Homo sapiens: one gene and its partners. The protein of the gene in region 2 purifies or fractionates together with the protein of the main gene of each other region. This does not show direct contact. Each region holds a gene or a part of one and is shown on either strand. Other genes may lie near its edges.

Region 1 (6,225 bases), on a different chromosome or scaffold from region 2:
GCAGTACTGGCAGATTTCTTTTTTCTTCATTAAGCAATGACCTAGCACAGAACAATGCATTGCTTATGGCAATCTTTGAAATCACAAGTAAACTTTAAAAACACTGCCTACAATGGAAATGCACGTGCCCTAGATCAGGGTTCACACAAACACATCCAGTAAGCATATGGACCATGCTTTCCATTCTTTACTGCATAATTTATTAAAAAATCTATAGAGAGAAATCTATTATTCTACTGCATCCAATGTGTTATGTGTGTGTTAATTTATATTAGCTAGGGCAAAAAGGCTATGTGTCATATTTAACACACATATTTCTTATTTGCCATTTAGCACATACACAAAGACTCATGCATACAAACACGATAACACACAATAACTGAGTAATGCTTTCTTTAAAGTGCTGAACTTTCATAGATTGGTAGCATTCTCTAAGAGTTCACACAAAAAGTAAGATGGATACATTGGAAGTATAACTCTAGGACAATCAAGTAAAAATAAATATCAAATCCCACTTTGAGATATAAAAGCATATAACTCGTATGTCACTGTTATCTTTCCTTCCAGCTGCTGAATATATAGATATTATTTCTGTTTTGTCATGTTACATAGAATAAGCTTCTCTGAGTTTCTCCCAAAAATCTACTTACAGAAAAGCAATTACTAGAGATTCTGTAGGAGTGAGATAGAAGTGGGTGAGGGTTCCTAAATGCTTTTATCTACTTGAACTACCACGTTATACCTAAAGTAAGAGCAATACATTCACTAACTTTAAATGCGTCCTCCCCTCCCTTTTTATTCCACAAGAAAATACAGAGTTTAAGATTAGTTCAACTTCACATGACTGTGATGCACAAATTCTTTAAGTGTAAGGAGTCTATGCATTTTACAGTAACTTATTTTATGATTGGGAGATGAGACAGTTATACATTCAACTGCCATTATTTTTATTAAGTGCTTTCATTTTCTTTACAGTTATTACAAAATTGTATTTATTTTATACAGATGGGTTTTCATTTTCCTGATGCTGTAATGTTTACTTCAGCTTGTTGACCTTTCTTTGTGTTATCTGCATGTTGTAACGTGTGATAAGAATGAATGTAAAGGCTGTGGCAACTGTAATTAATTTTTGTAAAGGGCTGGTCACACGTGGATCTGGTTTATGAATGTATTTGGGATGATTTTAGTAACCAGATCACCTTTTCAGAAATTTAGATGTGAACACCAAAAGATGCATTTTCTCAACAAAAATTAATAGCTGGTTCTATTTTTTTAAACCTAGAAAAAATAAAGTTGATTTTTTTCAAAAAAAAAAAAGATTAGTTCAACTTTATACCAAGAAATAATAGTAGAGCTACTTGTTGAAATACCACCTCCTAGTGGTAAGGTCATCTTATTTGTTTTATAAAGCACTGGGGTATAGCATATTTGGCCACTGTGCTATTTTTCACAATTTAAAATTACAGTTGGATAAATGGCCCAGTAAGTTTTAGTTTGATAGTATTTTCAAAAAGGTATTTCATTAATGTTTATTTGACTTACAAACTTAATTCCCCTTATTAATAAAATAGCAATCAATATTTCCTATGTGCAGTTAGTAGCAGTGCTTAGATTAAAAACAAAACTTTAAGAGGAATAAGTTCTAGTGTTCTATACCACTGTAGGATAACTATAGTTAACAATAGTATATTATATAGTTTGAAATAGCTGGAAGGAACATATTAAATGTTCGTAACACAAAGAAAAATGTTCGAAATGATAGATATGCTAATTACCTTGGTCAGATCACTGTACATTATATGAATGGAAACATTATTATGTATCTCATGAATAGGTACCATTGTTATTTATAAATTTAAAATAAAATTAAAAACAAAAACAAAACTTACTAGAAATCTTTGTTGTTGTACCCCAAAAGTCCTAGAAACCTACATACAAATATGTGAGAGTGACAGCTATCTTGTAGACACAATAAGATGATTATTTAATAACCTGATAGTTTGGAGTTACTAAATCAACACTTTTCATTCAGTAAAGCAGCAAGGAGACAACCTTTCATTATATACTTTGGCAGAGATAATCCAAAATCAGATAATCAAAATAATTTTTATTTGGTTGTAGAATGTTGTAGTACATAAAGCAAAATGTGTCTGCAGGATACTCCAAATTTACCAACTTCAAACAAAATAATGCACAGTGAAGAATTAGAAAATTATCAACCTTACTCAATACATGGAAGTATTCCTTAATCTTCATCATTTTCATTAAACAAAATAATATTTTGGATGAGTTCAACATTTCTATCCTATGCTTTATGTTTAGTGCCTTCCCTGAATTGGAAAAAATGAGGTGTTTTATTTAAATTTAACACTGGTCTAAGGGAGATATAGAATTAAACTAAACAAGAATCGGTTATCACAACCTCACAACATATATCAAAGTATTGAGATTGTTGGTTTACTGACTGTCACTTTTCACTGGATATTAAATATCCTGAGGGCTACAACTGTATTTTTTAACCTGTCCCAGTACCTCAACAAAATTTTCACTGAATGTATGAATAAATTATGTTAACAAAAAGTTAACAATAAAAGTATAATGAAGATCCCTTTAATTAATTTTAAAATCTGAAAGGAAAACTGGAGTCACAAAACATATGTTCAAATCTTAATTCATCACAAATTTTGTGATTTTTGACCTCCACCTCAATGAAGCTCAGTTTTCTCAGCTGAATAAAAGGGATAATGCCTGTGTATTTCAGAGTAGCTGTAAAGGTAAAATGAGGCAATGTACATGAAAGTCCTTTGGAAATACCAAACAAATGTTATTTGCTATCATGCTACCACATATACATGTAGGAAATATATGTATTAAATAAGAATATTTTTAAGATGCAATGTGATAACTTACATTAAATATATATACAATTTTTCCCAAATGAAAACTAACCTAATTCCTCTCTTTAACTGACAAACACACTCAAAACTGCTCATCCAAAAAAAGTCCCTTCCTTGAAGATGTAGTCCCCAGCTTTTTCTCTTCTCTAGTAAATGCTGTCAGAAAAGAGTTGACACCTATGCATCTTCTTCCTAATGCACTGAAAGCTGACTCAATGACCACTGCCTATAGAACAGTTTCAATATGTTTAATCCATTGATTTCTTTTAAATTATCACTTTATTTTATCCCTGAAGATTTCTTTTTGAGTACTTTCCACACCTATCCTGGCTTCTTCAAAACAACTACCCTTTTTTTCTTACTTCTGTGACTATAAGGTTGTATTATTGGATCTCCTTTTTTCTCATCCTAATTTCTGCCTAGATGATCAAACCTGCTCCAATAGAATCAGGTATCATCTCTGTATTGTAAGCTTTGAAATATTTGTCTCTGTCTCAGGTTTCCTCCTAATTTCTAGGTCTATATTTCTAATTATTAACCAAAGATTTCTATCTGGATGCCCTTCATTCTATGTAAAGTCAAACTCATTATCCTTCTCTCTTTTTCCAAACCTTCTCCCTCCCTTTGTTGCCAATCTTGGTAAGCAGCCAAGCAGAAATCTTAGAGTCATTAATGACTTTTCCACTCTTCCTCACCTCTTACTTCCATTATCTAGTAACAGGATCTATTGATTCCATCTCTTAAATGTCTCTCTAATCCATCTACTCTCTTCCCTATTTTAATTTCCACTTCCTTCATTGGATCTTCATTATTTCTTTTTGAAATATTTTGATCGCCTCTTATCTAGTCTCTATGCTTTGGTCTCACACAATTTAAATCCATCCTCTTAAATATGATGCCATGGGAAAAAAAAAAAAAACATCCTTACTTTTTTTTTTTTGGCTGCCTACTCATTGCCTGGAAAATAAACTGCAAGCTCTTTGACATTGCATTTGAGACCCTTACTTATCTGTTTCCAACCTGTTTTTCCAGCCCTAACTCATGCCCACACCCTTCTCTCTCTAGAATATGTTATGCACTTTCAGTTTCATGCCCTGGTTCATGGTGTTCCCTCTACCTGTTATGGTTGTTCTTCATTTGTCAAAAACCTCTACATCTTTCGAGCCCATGTGATATGTGATTTTCTCTGTAATATTTTCTCTATCCTGCTTCTGGGTAAAATTAACCTCTATTCCTTATGTTCTCTTCTACTGCTATTAAAATTAAATTTAAGTTGTAGAAGTGTTTATCTCCTTCACTGTATCAGACTCAAAGGAAAAAGTTGTGTTCATTTTGATTCACATATGCTTAACACAATGCCTGACCAATAGAGGGTATCCAATAAATACTGAACTGAACAAATCTATTCCTGATCTGTGTAATAAACAGGGAGAACAAACTTTAAGAATAATTCTCATGCATAAAACATATTAGCTACAACATACTGATTTTTGTCAGTTATTATTACAATTAAATGAAAATCATTTGGCTTTGAATAATAGTAAAAATATACCCAAAAGATGAATTATCCATTGTAATCCATTTGGTTTTAAGTAAATCAAACAGCTAAATTTCTCTCTTGCAGTCAGTTTGGAAGGAGGCAGGAAGCAGTTATACAAAAATCCAGTCAAGTATCTGTAAAATACATAGAAATCAAATATGAGACGCTTACTGGTGTTATTAGAATATCAAGGTAAGAGTCATGAAGTCTATTAAAGTTTTTCTGTAAGTTAAAGAGCTAAAAACATTGTAAAGAGTAAAAAATAATATTAATTCAGCTAGAAGTAACCTTAGGGAAAATTACACATATCTTATAGGGGCAGTGCTAAATCAGTGCCATGAAATATTTTTGTATAATTCCAACAAAACCATCTCTAATAAATACTATTTTAAGAAAATTACACTCAGTCTTGCTGTATGACTTTAGATCATGTGTCAGTGTACTATAGCCTATAGGCCAAATCTGGCCCCTTACCTGTTTATTTTACTGTTTACAGACAGGGTTTATGTTATCCATGCTGTACTCAAACTCCTGGCCTAAAGCAGTCCTCCCACCTCAGCCTCCCGAGGAGCTGGGACTACAGGAGCAGGGCCACTGTGCCTGGCTCCCTCGCCTGATTTTTGTAAACAAAGTTTTATTGGAACACGGACATATTCATTCATCTCTATGTTGTCAGTATCTCTTGTTGCTCTACCTCTACAATGGCGAAGCTGAGTAGCTGAGATATACTGTATGTCCCACAAAGTCTAAACTACTTACTGTCATTTTAAAATAAAAATTTGGGCAACTCCAACTGCAGATAATCATTTGGAAATCTAGTTGAAAATCAAGCTAGTTTCTTTGTGAGAATTTCTTATGATTCTAGAATTCAGAATGTTTATGCAAAGATTTGTTTTCAAAAATAACATGAAAGTTATAAGGATGTGAGGATAGGGAATGTACAGATATCAAGTACATAGTAGAGAGAAAGGAAATACTTACATACCTTTTTAAAGATTAAATTGTTTTATTTTTATACTTTTAACATAAGCCTGCCTAATTATTCTTCATTAACTAGGAAAAGGAGTGGCTGCTCTTCATAATAGAGTGTTATTGGAAATGAACGTTGCTACCACTATTACATCACTAAAAAAGTAGAAACATCATTCTCCCTGTAGGAATAAAGGAGTAAAGTTTAACATAATTAACTTTTTTTTTTTAAATAAGGGGAGGAATAGGCTAAAAGAGGAAGAAAGAGAAAGGGAGGGAGAAGTGGAGAGAGGGATGAAAGAGAGGAAAAACGGAGAGAGGAGAGAAAACCTACTGTACCTCATTCTTTAATTGATATGAAGCCAATCTGTGTACCAAAATTAAGGCCATCTCGGACATGGGAGAAAAACTTGTCAGGATGGCAAGATGTACAGAGGTTGAGATCTTGGTTCTGGTCCTGAATATTCTGTGGAAGAATTCCTCCCTGTTCTAGAAGAATCCTTAGGAAAAATATTTTTCAAAAGAGAGCAAGAGTTTATTTTCCCAATAGCCAAAGCAATATGAAAAAAAGTATGGATGTTGGCATGAAAAAGTTCCAGGAAAGATGTACCTAGAACAATGTATATTGTTATTCACTTACAGAACATGGACTAGTCAGGGAAAAAAATGCTACACTTTATCAGCATTTATCACCTAAGTTCATATATGCACAGTACAACCTTCCATATTGTCTTATAGACATAATCTAGGTACAGAATTTTATAATCAAAATCAAGTGCTTATTTAAGAAGAAATGTCTACAAAAGTTACCAGGATATC
Region 2 (8,696 bases):
CACCATTGTATATCACTGTTGCATGGACTCCAACATTTCGAGGCAGTCCCATATTTCAGAACAGGCACAAAAAAATACATATGGAGACAAGTCATTTTTCTTGCCATTTTCGTTTAACTCATCAGGAAATGGCAAACCACAACAGCATGCACCTGGATCATGCATTCAGTAAGACCAAGACAAACAAATTGAAAAGTACCTCGGAAGTCACCTTGCAAGACAGTAACTTAGAAGTGTACTGGCAGAGAGGGAAAAGACCAGGGTTAGTACATGGCAGTGACACACTTACAGAACACCCCCTAGCCGGGAACAGGCACCACACCAGAAGAGGATGGGAGGGGAAGTAATACCAGGAGGCCATTCTACACCCATGCCAAAACTTTCTCCATCTGATATTAGTTTATTTATAAGTCTATTCTTTGCAGCAACTAGATACCCTATTGTTCACTAATAAAAATATCAGATAAGCCGTACTTTGTTAATTCAAAACGTTGCTTTCAGTTTCTGTACTTTGAATTAACAAGATTCCTTCCCCTCTGTACACAATCAGCTGCCCACCAGCAAGGTCGTTGGGGGCCATTTTGGATTTGCTAGAGTCTGTAGCCAAATAGCCTTTTCTCTTCCCGTAGGCTTCTCTGAACCCCAAAGCCGTCTTGTAACCTGTTGTTCCATTAAAAGAAGATCCTAATCACAGCAGTTGGTTTGTGGAGGCAGATTCTCTGAAACCGGCCTAAGGGTAGTCTTGCCTAGGGAGACCACACAGCCTCCCTCGTCAGAACCCTGGGGGCCTGGGTAAGTTCCTGAGAGTGGGATCATCCTTTGATAGCAATTTCTGGTGATTATATAGGATTATTAGTATGAGCACTTAGGAACTGAAATGATCCTTTAGTTCCTATAGGGGACTAAAAGTCTTACTCAAAGTACAGAAAAAAATGGCCTGACTATGGAAAATGAGATGGCAGGACCAATTTGGGACATCCCTCTCCAGAATTATGGTAATGAGCGTACATTTACACTGCTTGGGGCATTTAAAGCATTTATTGGTTTGGGGCATTGATAGCCATAGACTAGTTAGGTGGGATCACACATCTGTGATTGCTGACTGCTTCTTATATGTAGCACTTAGGAATTATAGTTCTGTCATGATTGGGCTAATGGCTGGGAGCTGACAAGTCAGGAGCTCTTCTCTCTCCTTTGCATCTTCACTAGGGTACGAGTGAGAACGTAAGAGAGAGTTAGGGAAGCACAAGGCATCACTGAGCTTCCTGTAGCGTCTGGGGAAACAGGAGGCAGATAGGCTTCCTTCACACACTGAGCGAGAGTATGGCCACAACTCTCAATGCATGTCCTGGTCTGGAAGGGTAATGTGTGCCAGGAACTCTCAGCTTTGACGTAGCCCAGGAAAACCGACGAGGTCTTCTCTTGTTCTAAGATGAGACAGAGTGGTTGGATGACCTCTCAGTAATGAAGTCATGGGATGAGAAAGAGAGAGAGAGCACACTGGAAAACCCCACTGAGGGCAGATCCTGCGCTAAAAGTAAAGATGGGGCTGAACATCCAGGAGGCTGTGATTTGGACTCTGGTCAGCATCCCTTCAACTGAGAAAGGCAAAGCAAACCCTCGAGATGTTCATGAGCATCATTGACTCAATGACCCATCATCTTCACTTTCTGAGGCTCAGGTCAGGTTAGGGAAACAATTGGCTGGAAAAATACTGTTTGCCTAAATACAGTCATGTCACTCAGGATGGACTAATGAATCAGAGTTTCCTAGAGGGGTTCTTCATGCCTGAAGGAAAAACATCCAAATAGCCCATCATTTGTGCCCACTGATCCAAATGTCTTCCAGGTCCATGAGTGGGCAACCCCACCTTGGAGGCAGTCGCTTTGCAAGGCATCAAGAAGCCCTTTAGGAAACTAGGATTCACTAGTCCATTATGAATTGCATGACTGAGCAGAAATGGTATGAGACCCAGATAAGTGGACATTTCCACATAAGAGAACATTTCCAGATAAGAGAAACCCACAATATGAATAGGATTGCTGCATCTGGGTGTGTGTTGTGTGCACTGCACAAAAGCATCAGACTAAAGGGATGAATGGTACTAAAGCCCAGTCCCCTACTCTACCCCCCAAATGTGTGGCTGGTGCAGGGCTGCATCTTCATATCTTCATAGAGGAACAAGGGTGGTTTTTTTTCCTAATTCACACAAAGGCCTTGCATAGGTTGGTAAACAGCCTTGGGTAAGTGGGTAGGGGTGGGGATGGTAATCCTCCTGCCCTCAGAATTAGCCAAGAGGTCCATTAATAAGTGAGGCTGGAGATACTCATTGGTGACTCCAATATACAGGACAAAGAAATCAGCCCAGGTGGGTGAAGACTGTGGCAACTAAAGGGAGTACTTTGCTCAAGTTCTGAGCTAGTAACAAATATGGCTGGTTGGGGACAACCTTTGGATAACACCACTCCCTGACTCCCATAAGCCAGGGGCCTCTCTGCATATGACTTTTTATAAAGTGGAAAACTGGAGAGAGCAGGGCCCTGAGCTGAGTCCCTGTGGACAGGACCCCAGAGGCCACCACACCCCTGATGGGGGCTCGGGGGACACTGAACTTGTTTTGATGGCAAAGATCAGTTTTTCTCACTCAGCAAAACTTCAGCCGTAGCTACATTCTATCTTTCTCCTTCTGTCTTTCACTCTCCTCGATACCATTGTGTCTAACATATCACACTTTATACACATTCCAATGATCAGCGCCTGTCTTGTTTTTAACTCTGCCTTCTCCTTAAAAAGAATAAAAAATAAGAATTATTTTTGCTCAATTCACAAATAACTGTTACTTTCGATGGGCAAACACATGGTTGTGTTCTAATCACGCGACAGGCATTGATTCTCAGGTGTGGTTTATCATCTCCAAAACGGCATGCCAAAATGCTGCCAAGTGGCTTACTGGAAAAAATATTGGCAAATGGAGGTGCCAGGGGTGATGCTGCATAACATGGGGAGATGCTGGGTGTGTAGGTGTGAGCCACTGAGGTGCTTAGAGGGTGGAGAGTCTAAGAAGCCATGTTTCTCTGTGAGAATAGTGTATGTAAATGGAGGCTAGAGACCAGAATTACTTTACCTTTAAGAGAATTAACTTTATGCTTCTACGGATAGGTAAGCCAGTTACACAACTCATCCCCCCAGCAATCCATCTGCTCTCTATTACTATCCTTCTGGTATTAAAGAAAAAGAAAAAATGGAAAAGGGGCCACAGATTGGTTAGGAAAAAAATGAATGTTTGTTCATCCCTACAGGTAAACTTCAACACATTCACCAGTGATTGACACAGATACAGGAGAAAAGGTCCCCTAAATTGGAAGGGCTAGGAGAAGGCTCTCATTTGAAGCCTGACTGATGATCATATCTTTGCTTTAGAAGCAATCTGAATTTGTTGTTTTAGATTTGGGTCTCTTAAATGAGCATATAGTGGATTGGTAGATTTTGTCCTGATCCTAAGAATTTTCAACAACAGCAAACTTGGTTCTGTTGTAATAGCAATAACAGTGCAAAACATTTGGCTTTGAATCCAAGATCCAGGGATATTAACAGCTTAATTAGTTAGGTCTCTTTCTTTTTCAAAATGTTTATTTACTGGAAAATATAGAGACAGGAGGCTGCCTCTTTGATTTGTAAGTGAAGGGCAATCAGCATATTAAAACGCTGATTCCAAGCAGCTTCATTCATGCAGAGGAAAAACTCAACCTGGTTGGCATTTGTTAGGTGGCTGCCAGAGTGTCAGCGTGTGCACAAAAGAGCTTCCAGCCCTCTGCCTTTACGAAATGAGTGAGAACTGCCTCTACCCTTCTGTATGGAGTATTTTTCCCTATCATCTGCACTCCAACACAAAAGACATACACAAGTGACAAGTAGAGTGTGTTCAGCAAACACTCGCGTGGGTCACATGCTAAGTGGTTCTACTTGTTCTTCCCCATCCACATCAGAGTGTGGGGCACCCACTTGGCTAAATTCTACCAAAACTGCTGATGTATAGAGCAGAGTCACTGGGAGAAAAGAAACCAGACACCTAGAGCACCAAGTTTCAAAATGATTTAACTTTCAGAAAATTCTTAAGGCAAACTTTATCCTTTGAAGTGGGGCTTCAAAGAAGGGCTGGTGAAAGTGACTGAGTAGCCAGGGAAAAATCCTGCAGGCTCACGAAAGGAGCTGCTGGCTCCCCTACAGTGAGGTTCAGCAGTGGAAATGTCTGCAGCAGCTACCCAGGGCCGGGCATCATCCCACTGTCTAATACAGTGAAGAGCCCAGTAGAATAGCTGCAGCCTAATACAGCAGCTGAGCCAGTGCTCCACGCAGTTCAGGTGTAAACAAAAGGGAAAGCCTGGGAGATGCCAAGTGAGAAGCCAGGCTGCCAGATATCCATTTGCTTTCTTCCTTTCTTTACCGCCATATATTTTGAAAGCAACTTTCAGCATCTGGGCTTCAACTCCAGAAATCCTTTAACTTAGCCAGCTAGGATATAAAAGGCAATAAAACAGCAGGGAATTCTTACTGTGAACTTCATAGCATTCAAGTTTAAGGTGACCAGATGGTTTATCACCCAAACTGGGACACTTTCAAGAGTGAAAGGCAGGCTGGGTGCAGTGGCTCATGTCTGTAATCCCAGCACTTTAGGAGGCTGGGGTGGGAGTATCCCTTGAGCTCAGGAGTTGAAGAACAGTCTGAGCAACATAATGAGACCTCCTTTCTACAAAAAAGTTAAAAAATAAGCCAGGTATGGTGGCATACGCGTGTGGTCCCAGCTATTCAGGAGGCTGAGGCGGGAGGATTGCCTGAACCCAGGAGGTCGAGGCTGCAATGAGCCATGATTACATCAATGCATTCCAGCCTGGGTGACAGAGACAGACCCTGTCTCAACAACAACAACAACAACAACAACAAAAGAGTTGAAGGGGATATTAATAACCACAACACCACAACAGGCATAAGCCAGGACTGTCTCAGGTAAACTCAGTAGGATCCTCAACCAACCCAAGCTATCTGTGACTTAAGTGCAGTCAGGGGAGGAGGTGATGACTTCAATATGTGCTAAGAGACTGGTGCCAGAAGACCCACAGGAGGTTGGCATGAACCCTGAGGCTGATCTCCAGGCTCCTGGGACTGTGTAGAGCAACAGTTCCTATGTCTCTAACCGGAGAAAGAAACCACAGAGCATGTGACTTCCTTCACAGTTAATTTGAACGTTATGTGCAAAGTTCCGAGGGCTTGGGTGTAGCAGAGTAGCCATGTGGTTTTCAACTGTCATTTTCACTGGCTCTTTGCTTTCAAGCTATGCACATGGGCTTGTTAACAGCCCCAAACACACTCAGTCTTTTAAGCACTGTAACATTGTTAGGGATTGCCTAGAGTGTCGGCTTTGAAGGAACAGCATCTTCATCCTTTTCTAGAGAAATAAAATCTCTACTGGGCAATGGTAGAAATCAGCTCCCAGGTGCATAGGGATGATTTCAGGGCACTTGCAACCTTCTCCCTGCGTGGCCCTTGCATGCTGTCTTTCTATGCACCAAACATCTTACACACTAGCCTTGCTGGTCGACTCCAGCTATACTTGGCAGCAAAGGACCAGCTCCCTGCAAGATCAACAATTTTTTTTTGAAACAGGCAAAAACCCAAACCCAGTTCCAGGCATGTGAAACCACATATATGAAAACTGATACTGGAACCCTAATGCTGACCAGACAACGACATACACATTTGTGCCTGAACTGGAATGCCACACGCCACACCGATGGCCGCGCTCAGAGAAGTGAAAGAGGAAAGGAGGAAAAACTTACACTACTATCATCCATTCTCTCGCGCCTTTTAGATTTGTGTGTCTCATAGTCTTCCATGAGGGTCTGCATCAGATTCTTGGGCCGCTGGGTTCCGGCAGCCTCTTCAGGGGCTAAGTCAGGCTGCAAGCTGGGGCCTTCAGTGGTGGGGGATGGAGGAGGTTTGACTTTCTCTATTTTCCCTGAAACAACACGAAGAAAATACCCTTTCTAAGCTTGTCTGCTCATGACTGCTTTTAGAAAGAAAACTGGCAAATAAAAGAGCAACAACCTCTGACACAGAGAGTGGTACCAGAATGATGGTTAAGTGTAGGCCATTTTATTATATTACAGGGATCAAAGCACTTAAGGTTAATGCACAAACCCATCCAAAGATCTCAAGGACACCAAGTTCCAAAAAGTCAGTTAGATCAAACAGGCACAGCACGCATTTTGCAAATATATGTTGGACAGACCGACAGTGGCTCCAGTTGTTTTGAGATATGTATTCTATCACAGATCACAGAATTAGACTGTCAGAGGTGGTGGCACCTTGGAGACTCACAGACCCACTTCTTAACAGATGAAAGCGCTTGAGGCTCTGCCAAGGGAAGGCTGTACTCAAGTCATAGGGAGCCAGTGATGGTACCCAGGCCTCCTGCTTTCCTCACCAGGGTCTATCCTCTATAGCAGAGGAAGTCAATTGTCTGCTGACCTGCCCAGGCTTTTTGTGCAGACAGCCCAGTGTTATAAAACCTTTGAATAAGGATGAAGTTTGTTCTTCTCAGTTTGCCCCGGTCTTACACTGGCCAGCTTTATTCATTTACCTCACCTGCTGGGGTCCTGAAACATTGGGGTTTGAGGCCTCCCAGACCTTAAGAAGTGTACACCAACAAAGGCAATGGAAAAGGTGCACACCAGCCTTGGGAATGAGGAGATTTTAGCTCTCGCAATGTCCTCCAAGAATCCTCAGGATGGAGAGATGAGGTCAGTGATTAATTCAACAGTGGTGTGGTGACTCTACGCACCCTCACCAAGACCATTTCCATCCCTCCCTCCCAAGAAATGCCTGGCCCTGGCTTCTGGCCCTTCATGGGGTGGGTTTATTGACACAGAGCCCCAAATGCACTTCTGAGAAGTATCTTCAAGTATAACAATTATGATTTTTCCAATTATGCCCTTTGTGGTTGATGCGGCTAAAACCTGTGAACAAGGAATGTGGATAAAACACACAAGATAAATGGGGCTTGCATGGCTCCGTTTGGGAGGGGAAAGGGCCATTTGACCTCTTCCAGTTCCAAGCCGAAGGGGACTCACCTTTCTTCATCTTACATCCCAGGCTTCTAACTTGGCAACTGCCTGATGTAGCAGGAATCACAAGTGAAGCCTGGTGTCCACATTTCCATATGGGCTGCTTAGCCCTTTACTGGCACAACCTCCTTCTGATGAGAGATACAAAGGCCTGGAGTCCAGGAAACCCAGGTTTTTAACTCCTGCTCTTCCAGTACTTGGCTACGTGACTGACTATAGATCATCGTTTCATATTCCCATTTCAATCGTGGGCTGATCACTTAAATTCTCCTAGCTTTAACTGCCATAGCGGTTAAATGGGAATTTTGGAAGAAGTTATCTTTGTGGTCTCTTCTAACTCAAACGTTTTGCTATTCTATCAAATATGTTTGGCAGGATACACCCTTCTTGATTTTTTTTAAGGTATTTAGCTGTTACACTTGGGGATTAGGTGGAAAATAGGTTTTAATATACAGAAAAGGGCACTGCATTTCATGGCCACATTACATTAATAACAGTGAAATTTGTTGCTTTGATCTAAATTACCCAGATAACTGAAAAGTCTTTTGATATTAACAGTACAATAATAAGTATTTCAAAATCTCCAAGTTCACTAGAAACAGTTCCTATTTTTTATTACGGAAATTAGGGAATGCTATAATGACCCCTATAAACATTATAAACATCACCCAGAGTAAACATTTATCAAGATTTTAGCATAATTGGCTCTTCCTTCCTTCCTTAGACTTGCTGAATTATTTTAAACCAATCCCAGACCTCAGGTCACCTCACTCCTGCACACTTAGTATGTATCTCTGAAAATTCCGATTGACTTTTTAATTGAAGGCTTAAGAAACAATATAGCACAGTGGTGAGCGTGTAAGCTCTGGAGCCAGCCGGTTTGGGCTTGAATCCATGACTTGGCAGCCAAATCACTTTGGGCAAGTTACTTACTCTTTTGATATCTTAGTTTCCTCATCAGTAAAATGGGTATGATGATAAGGGTACCTACCCTCAGATAGTTATTATGAGGACAAAGTTAATATTTATAAGGTTAATATTCAGAACAGAAAGCATCTAATGATTCTAGCTACCACTTAATTGGAATCTCAAAGAATAATGTGACTATAGGGTGAGATGAACAATTTCATGCATATTCTGCATAAAATTTTTGCATCTCTTCTGGGACCAGAAATAGACACCAATTACCAGGTTAATTTTCATCATTTTCCAGTTGACCTCTCAAGTGTCCAGATCACTTCCCACCAGCCACTCTTCCAGAGTTAAACACCTAGAAAGCACAGCCTATATTCATTGCTTCTAGCTTCTCCCTTTCACACACAGCACAGTGGAACTCCTGTTTATATTTCTGTGAAGGCCATTTTCACATACTGACTTAAATCTTATCTGGCTATTGAAGCTTTTGTCTTCTCAATTAAGCTATAATGTCATCCTGAGGACAGGGGGGTATGTTTCACCTGTCTATGAATCCCCTTAATTCATTTGAATGCAAACTCCATTAGGGTAGAGCCTTGCCTGTCTGATCATTGCCAGATCCCAGCAGTAGCTGTGGTACATGGCACGAGGTAGGCAATT
Region 3 (8,810 bases), on a different chromosome or scaffold from region 2:
AAGGGTTAAGCACTCTTTGGTCCACAGGTCTTTCATCCACTCATTCACCCATCACACATCCATCACCCATATTTGCTAAGCACTGACTCTGTGTCAGGCACTGTGCTTAGTCCACGGAGGTGAGAACACAGATATGGTTCCAGCTCTCATGGAACTTCAGTCTGGTGGGGGAAAACAAACATAATAAACACATAAGTACAAGCTTAGAGAGTGCCGTTGAAGAGATGACGTGGTGCTCTCCTTAACAAACGACTTGGGGTGTGAGGGTATATACTTAAATGTGGTTATCAAAGAAGAACTATCTGAGGATGTAGCATTGAAGCTGAGACAAGCCAAGAGACCAAGCATTCCAGGCAAGGAAAAAAAGAGACTTGAAATACATTTGAGAATTATTTCATTCAGTAACAATTTTTGAAAGTTTTTTGTTTGTTTTACCAGGCACTGGGCTTGTAGGAATGGCATTTCAAATGAGTGGAAGACACTGAAAAATTCAATTGCCTATATTTGTCTAGCTGCCTAGCTGGAGGAGGAGGGATGCACACGGGGAGGTGGCCTAGGCCCGTACTTTGATGGAACGAAGAACTTAAAAAAAAAAACCTACTTATATCTTTATTTGATGAAAATTTAAAAACGAAGTCATGAACAAGTTAAAAGTAAACTTTGACGAATTTGGTTTTTAGTAACATTGGAACAGAGGGGGAAAAAAAACCCACAGGGACCATAAAAGAAAAAAAAGGTCATTTTGACTCTATCAACATTTTTTAAATCACATAAATTACGTAAATAAATGCATATAATTAGGAGAAAAATATATGCATTATATGACCCAAAATGCTAGTTTTCTTAAGATATTTAGCTCTTACAAATAAACAAGAAAATGGACCACAGAGTAGAAAAATAAACCAGAGTATGAGCAGTTCACAGAAAAAGAAAAATCAATGGTTTGTAAACAAAGGTGTTCTAGATAATTTATAAATAAATAAAAATTAAAATGAGATATGTTTCATTTATGTGGCAAAGATGAAAAAGTCTAACATATATAGTATTGTTGAAGATAAAGGAAAACAAACACCACCATACACTACTGGGGGATCCAGGGATTGAAGCAAGTTTTTTGGAGGGATGTTTCCAAAAGCTATCAAATTATAAATGAGCAGACCTTTTGCTGCTGTGGAAAGCTAGCCAAAATAAGTTAGTAATTTGTAACTATCTATAAATTATAGATACTTTAAACTAGCAGTGTCTAAACTTTTTACAAATGCAAAAGTTTTTAGCATGCACCTCAAAATGTTATTTATAAATGATATACATATGCTACTAAACTGAAATTTATATTACAACACATCCCCACTAAAAGAAGTTGAAAAAAAAATCTAACCTGAATTTATTGGCAGCAAATTTAGCCTGAACTGACATGAGGTTAGTTATAGTGTTTATTTGTTCAGTGTGAAATTTGAGTATTTCTATGTTTCATTGTGTTTGATTTTCGATGCTGCCCCAGACACTGAGGAAGGTATTAGGTAATGTGTGGAATGTGCACACATAAACGTGAACAGAAGCACTTCTGAATTCTGAAACCCATCAAGTCTCAAGAGTTTTGGATAAAAGGCTGGGCACGGTGGCTCACACCTGTAATCCCAGGACTTTGGGAGGCGAGGCGGGAGGACTTGAGGTCAGGAATTCGAGACCAGCCTGGCCAACATAATGAAACTCCATCTCTACTAAAAATACAAAAATTAGCCAGGTGTGGAGGCGGGTACCTGTAATCCCAGCTGCTCAGGAGGCTGAGGCACAAGAATCGCTTGAACCTGGGAGGTGGAGGTTGCAGTGAGCCGAGATTGCTCCACCGCACTCCAGCCCGGGCGACAGAGAGAAACTCCCTCTCAATAAAGAGTTTTGGATAAAGGATTTTGGACCTGCATCACTTTTCCCTGGCAAATAGCAGGTGATAATAAGTGCTTGTTGAATGACTAAACTCTGATTCATCCTTGAGACCATCAATTATTTGCCTGCCAGTCCTATGAATGTGTTGAGGCCATTTGCCCGGTGTACAATAGGCCACAGACAGCTATTTAAATTCTTCTGCCTGCCTTCTATAGTTTTTGCTTTGGTTTGTCTAGTATTCCATCTTGTTATGAAAGCCACCAGCTATAAATTCTTGAGGTTATCAATATCCCTACCTAAAAGAAGTTGCTTTTTCTCTTCCATTTTTCTGCAGCCCTAGGAGCAGACAACTAAGCTTGTATAAAGTAAACAAACTAGTTCAGAATGAAGCCTTAGGAGCTTTGTGTTGAGTCCCATGTACACTTTGAGACACCTATTTTGGCTGCTTCTTGGGCCTACTTCCTGATTCTCAAGGTTTGGGAAGATAGAAGTTCCCCAGTCACCAACTTCTCTGTCATGTTAAGGGGAATAATTTATATTTTTACCATTTCAGGTTAAAAATAACTTCATATTATTAAGCATTAGAAAAGTAAGCTCCCTGAGGGCAAGGATTTTTGTCTGTTTTGCCCACAGCTGTATTCCTAATGCCTAAAACAAATATTTAATGAAGGAAGAAGCACCCTGAGTTTGAGAGAGAATATTTTGTCCTGATAGCTCCAGAAGATGGTATTTCTTGAGGAAATCCTGGATGTGTAGATAGAGCAGATGTTGTGAAATGCCAAAGTTAAAAGCAGATGAAGAGGCCAGGCGCGGTGGCCCACACCTGTAATCCCAGCACTTTCAGAGGCCAAGGTGAGAGGATTGCATGAGCTCAGGAACTTGATACCAGCCCGGGCAACAGAGCAAGACTCTGTCTCTACAAAAAATTAAAAAAATTAACCAGGTGTAGTGGCATGTGCCTGTAGTCCCAGGTACTTGACAGGCTGAGGCAGAAGGATTGCTTGAGAATAAGCTGCAGTGAGCCGTGGTCATGCCTCTGCACTCCAGCTTGGGAGACAGAGCAAGACCCTGTCTCAAAAAGAAAAAAAAAAAAAGCAGATGAAGTTAGAACTATGTTTTAAATGATAATATGATAATATTCAGAAATAGTTTGGTAGATCAACTCTTCAAGGATGGGGAAAAAACTGTCAGTATAAATACTTTATAACGTGCCTTAATTTCCAGACAAAAAGGCAAAATATTATTTTAAACAAAATGCCATTTTAAAAGGTCTAGAGCTAGAGCAAGCTGGTCTAACCCGAGGCCCATGGGCCGCTTTGAATGTGGCCCAACACGCATTCGTAAACTTTCTTAAAACATTGAGGTTTTTTTGCGAATTTTTTTTTTCTTTTAGGTCATCAGCTATCCTTAGTGTTAGTGTATTTTGTGTGTGGCCCAGGGAAGCCAAAAGATTGGACACTCCTTCTCTAGACTCAGTCTAGAACCCTCTCTCTACTACAGCTAAGATGAATGTGTGCTTTATTCTGAGCTAAATGTCTTAGAGGAAGGTGCAGAGGTATGGAAAGTTCCTCCATACCGGAAAACACAGTGAGGATGCCTGGGGAGTACAGAGGGAATTATGTGGCGTGCAGATTTGAATGCATGGATGAGACTTGAGAATTCTGATTGAGGACGTAAGGCCTGTGCGAGAGCCCAAAAAGCGTTCTCAGAACAAAGTAGCAAGGGGCGCGTATGAATTGCTGTGGTATCATCCGCAAGGGCTTTCAGAGGGGAAAAAGGACAAGGTTGGAAGGAGGCAGTTATGTTATGGGATGTAGGCAGGAATAAGAAGCAGTGCCAGGTAAGAGGGAGGAATCCAGGGGGATTCCTCTGGGGAAATCATGGGGAAAGGACTGTAGAAGAATTCGGCCTAGGTGGGATTCTGCAGACCAGCTGCAGGTGCAAGGACTAAAGTGAGCATGGGTGGAACCTAAGGGATGAAAAGACTGCAGGATCCTAAAGCGGCGGCCCAATCTGGAAGTGTCCGGGCTTTGGCCCAGGGCCCGGGGAGGCCAGGGCACGCCAGCCCGGGCCTGACAAGCCACGTTCCTACCGGTCCGCAAGCGTCCGGCCGCAGGTCTTGGAAGTCCGCGCCGTAAATGGCCTCCAGGGCCTGTAGCTCGTGGTCCTGTCGTTGCGGGTAGCTCTCCGGAGGCTCGTCCCGGCCGCGCCCGGGGGCCCCACGGCCCCCAGCCATGGCAGCGCTGCGCCCAAGGCAGGGCGGCCTTGCCTGGGCGGCGGTGGGCCCCCGGCAGCCTGCGGGGCGGGGCTCCGCGCTGGGGACGGGCTATGGGCGGTGTTCCACGCTGGAAACGGGCTCGTGGGCGGGGTTCCGCGCCGGGGACGGGCCGTAGGCGGAGCTCCGCGCCGGGAGCTAGCTCCGGAGGCTCCAGAAGCCCAGGCGAAGGAAGAAGGCAGGGGGACAGCTTTGCCCACATCCTGCTGGGGGAAGGGGAGCAAAGGAACTCCACGAACTTAAGAAATGAATCACAGATAGGAATGAAAACGCCACATTGTATAGTTTTCACGAAACAAGTATCTTTAACAGAAGTGCTTGCTGGAACTTCTCCACCCTGGCATGGCTAGTGCGGGAAACTCTTTTTTCTTTTTTTTGGCAGAGTTTCGGCTCTTGTTCCCCAGGCTGGAGTGCAGTGGCGCGATCTCGGCTCACTGCAACTTCCGCCTGCCGGGTTCACGCGATTCTCCTGCGTCAGCCTCCAGAGTAGCTGGGACTACAGGCGCGCACCACCACGCCCGGCTAATTTTTCTATTTTTAGTAGAGATGGTGTTTCACCATGTTGGCCAAGATGTTCTCGATCTCCTGACCTTGTGATCCGCCCGCCTCGGCCTTCCAAAGTGCTGGGATTACAGGCATGAGCCACCGCGCCCGGCCGGGAAACTCTTAAAGGGCAGACGTCGATGGGTTCTGAGGTCACTTCTAATTTCACCTTGTACCTTCCCAGAACAAGACTACCGGGAGTAAAAATTGTGACCCCCCCCACCCTCCTTCCTCCCACTTTAGTACCCCCAAACTTATTCTCTGAGCCACAGATTCAACACCCTCATTATGTTCTCTGTCTCTACATTCCCCAGCTTTGGGGATCTCCACTACCACCTTGCAAATTCAATTGAAAACTGTCTTTCCACTCAGGCATCTTTATGAGCTACCTTCCCATGAAGAGAATCATGTTCCCTTCCCAGTTCACTCAGTGTGAATTTAGGGAGTCTTTGTGTTATATCCTGCCTCAAGTCGTCGTTTTTCAAGTTTATAAAATAATAACCTGTCTACCCAGACATTGTTATTGCACTTCATCTTCAGTAACTTACTAATGCTGCATGTCCATTTCGAATAATCCTATTGTACTAACCCAAGTTAGGTTTAAGTGACGTTTCTTCTGTCTACCTTGCTTACTCCTCCACTGTTCACTAAATAATGATTGTGTAAATTCCTTGCTGCCATCTATCCACTCATTTCTGGCCAGATAACACAAATGCACTAGCTTGACCCAAGGCCAATTTAAATCATCATCTTCCCTCTGCTGGAGACCCGTTCCTTCTCCAGTGATCTCTGACTAGGTAAATGGCACCATTCAACTGAGTGTGATTCTGAATTCCCTTTCTCTCAACTCACATCCAAATAGTCACCACTTCTGTCCATCCACTACACTCTAACCCATTGCCACTAACTTAGTTCAGGCTACTGTCACCAATTCCCTGGGTTACTTCAATAACTCTCTTAATTAGTCACTGTCTTCATTCTTGCCCCACATTAAGCCATTCTTCCTATTGCAGCCAGAGTAATGTTTCTAAATTGCAAATATGGCCATTGCACTCTAATCCTTAAAATTACTCCATTTCTCTATTGGTCTTTAAAAAAATTCTTTTAAACCTATATTTATGAAAATGTCAAACATACTTAGAAGTAAACTCCTCTGTACTCATCATCCAGCTTCAACAACCATAGATATTTTGTCAATTTTATTTCATCTCTTCTCTCCATCCCTCAGGAGTGTTTTTTTTAAGTCTCAATCATATCATTTTAAAAAATAAATACCTAAGGATATATCTCTAACTAGAAAAGGAACCAACATAACATATTACTAATCTTATACCCTAAAAATGTAACCCTTTGGCCAGGGACAGTGGCTCACACCTGTAATCCCAGCACAAGGTGGAGGATCACTTGAGGCCAGGAGTTTGAGACCAGCCTGGGCAACATAGCGAGGCCCCATCTCTACAAAAAATAAAATAAAAAATTAGCTGGACGAGGTGACATGTAGTCCCACCCTCAGGAGGCTGAGTGGGAGGATTGCTTGAGCCCAGGAGTCCAAGGCTGCAGTGAGCTGTGATTGCACCACTGCACTCCAATCTGGGCAACAGAGTAAGACCTTGTCTCTTAAAAAAAAATTAACAATTTCTTAGCATCGTTTAATACCTAATCTATGTTCAAATATTTCCATTGTGTAAAATTAGAATCTATACTGGACGCTGGACCTATAAAAGATATAATTAAAACAAACAGCAAAATTTGAAAGGAATCTGTGGATTACATGGCAGTATTATACCAAATGCAGCATTAAGGGGGCAGTGACGTATTAAATATGCAGTTAGCTCCCAAATGATTCAGGAAAAAGAAGAGAGATGATGCTAAATCAAATGTAGAATGTTGAACATTGGAGAATTTAGGTGAAGGATATATGAGAGCTCTTTGAGTGACTTGAAAATTTTATGTAAGTTGGAAATTATTTTAAAGTCAAAGTTCAAAGCAAAAAAAATAAGAAACTGTCAAAGTGTTTTCCAAAGTGGTTGTACCACTTTATATTCCCATCAGTTTATGGGAGTTCCAGTTGTTCTACCTCTTTGCCAGTAATTGGTATTGTAATGTTTTTAATCTTAAACATAGTAATTGGTGCTTAGCAGTATCTCAGTGTGTCTTAACTTGCATTATCCTAATGATTAATGATGTTGGGCATCTTTTCATGTGATTATTTTCCATTCATATATCGTCTGTCTTCTGTTTTTATTCACATCTTTGGTGCATTTTAAAAATTTTGTTTTTGTTTTCTTATTAACTTTTGAGAAATATTTATATATTCTGGACATGTATTTTTTTTTTTTTTTTTGAGATGGAATCTCACTCTGTCACCGAGGCTGGAGTGCAGTGGTGCGATCGCAGCTCACTGCAACCTCTGCCTCCCGGGTTCAAGCAGTTCTCCTGCCTCAGCCTCCCGAGTAGCTGGGATTACAGGCATATGCCACCACGCCCAGCTAATTTTTGTAGTTTTAGTAGTGACGGGGTTTCACCATGTTGGCCAGGCTGGTCTTGAACTCCTGACCTCGTGATCTGCTCGCCTCAGCCTCCCAAAGTGCTGGAATTACAGGTGTAGGCCACTGCACCAGGCCGGACATGTCTTTTATCAGATATGTGACAGGCAAAAATATTCACCCAGTCTGTGGCTTGCTTTTTCATTCTCTTAACTGTATTTCAAAGAGCATGTTTCTTACTTTAGAGGACATTTAATTTGTCATTTTTTTCTTACATGAATTATGTTTTGCAGTCATATCTAAGAAATATTTGCCTATCCCAAGGCCAAAAAGGTTTTCTTCTATGTCTTCATCTAGATAGTGTTAGATTTTACCTTTTGGCCTATCATCCATTTTAGTTAAAAACTTAAGCATATACCTACTATATGAAACAGCAATTCCATCCCAGGCATTTACCCAAGAGAAACAAAAGCGTATGTCCATACAATGACTTGTATGTAAATATTTGTAGCACCTTAATTTGTAATATCCCCAAACTGGAAACAAACCAAATGCCCACCAACACAAGATGGACATATTGAAGTATAAACAAATTGAGGTATATCAATACAATGAAATACTATTCAGCAATAAAAAGAAATACATTATAGATACAGCAACAACATAGACAAACTCAAAATAATTATGCCGAATGAAAGAAGGCCGACATAGAGTACACACTACATAATTCCATTTACATAAAATTCTGAAAAATACAAATTTGGTAACAGAAAGAAGATAAGTGGTTGCTTGGGGATAGGGAGGACATAGAAGAGCCAGGTGGAGGGATTAAAGTGGAACAAGAAGAAACTCTTGGGAGTGATGTCTGTATACATTCATTATTTTGATTGTGGTGATCATGTCACAAGTATATGCATATATCAAAACTTATCAAACTGTACAATTTAAATATATGCAATGTGTTATATGTTTACTATACCTTAATAAACTGTTAAATGAAAAAAGGAAAAGGTCATTTTTTTGTTTTGTTTTGTTTACAGTGGTTTGTTTGAATCAAAATTCAAACAAGGTCCACACATTGCATTTGGTTGCTGTATGTGCAATACGGGGTTAACTAAGCAGGCTTGCGATGTATAAACTCCGTATATTTCAAAGAAAAGATTTGCCCATGACTGGCTCCTGGGAGATAACCTCTAAGTCCTTGAGACATTCTGCCTCATAAGGATGTCTTTGTATACTTGGGGTTCACAAACCAACTCATCAGGACACCCCAACATTTCCTTCTTCTCCAAGTACTTCCTAAACCTTTAGATCAGTCTTCCAAAGAAGAGTCTCTAATCCTATATGTCCTTCTTGCTCCCCCAAACTACATCTCCTGGTCTTGCTGCTTGCCCTTGATGTTCCAAAGAGAAGCTCTCAGATTTTGGTCACTGTTTCCCAAATTTTAAAACTGCAATCCCTTTCCCCTTCATTCTTGAAGGATATTTTCATTGAATATAGAATTCTGGGCCAACTGTTATTTTCTTTCAGTACTTGAAAAGTGTGCCATTTCTCTCTGACCTACATGGTTTCAGTGAGAAATCTGTTATCATTCACATTGTTTTCCCACTAAAGGTAATGTG

The links.
Region 1: the proteins of PALM2AKAP2 (region 2) and LACC1 purify together in Homo sapiens (affinity purification with mass spectrometry; 3 studies listed by BioGRID and IntAct, with this or other methods). This does not show direct contact.
Region 3: the proteins of PALM2AKAP2 (region 2) and EIF2AK4 purify together in Homo sapiens (affinity purification with mass spectrometry; 2 studies listed by BioGRID and IntAct, with this or other methods). This does not show direct contact.

What each region holds. Positions count from the first base shown.
Region 1 is NC_000013.11:43,889,795-43,896,019, reverse strand, and holds the end of LACC1 (purine nucleoside phosphorylase LACC1), read right to left. Parts: intron 5,907-6,225; coding exon 5,747-5,906; 3' UTR 5,746-5,746; exon of another isoform or gene 5,741-5,745; intron 4,572-5,740; coding exon of another isoform or gene 4,418-4,571; 3' UTR 2,088-4,417; downstream 1-2,087. UniProt on the Homo sapiens protein: Purine nucleoside enzyme that catalyzes the phosphorolysis of adenosine, guanosine and inosine nucleosides, yielding D-ribose 1-phosphate and the respective free bases, adenine, guanine and hypoxanthine.
Region 2 is NC_000009.12:110,153,636-110,162,331, reverse strand, and holds part of PALM2AKAP2 (PALM2-AKAP2 protein isoform 3 (PALM2-AKAP2)), read right to left. Parts: exon of another isoform or gene 8,579-8,696; intron 7,253-8,578; exon of another isoform or gene 6,129-7,252; intron 6,014-6,128; coding exon 5,835-6,013; intron 239-5,834; coding exon 200-238; intron 1-199. UniProt on the Homo sapiens protein: Binds to regulatory subunit (RII) of protein kinase A. May be involved in establishing polarity in signaling systems or in integrating PKA-RII isoforms with downstream effectors to capture, amplify and focus diffuse, trans-cellular signals carried by cAMP.
Region 3 is NC_000015.10:39,929,506-39,938,315, reverse strand, and holds the start of EIF2AK4 (eIF-2-alpha kinase GCN2), read right to left. Parts: upstream 4,202-8,810; 5' UTR 4,121-4,201; coding exon 3,977-4,120; intron 1-3,976. UniProt on the Homo sapiens protein: Metabolic-stress sensing protein kinase that phosphorylates the alpha subunit of eukaryotic translation initiation factor 2 (EIF2S1/eIF-2-alpha) in response to low amino acid availability.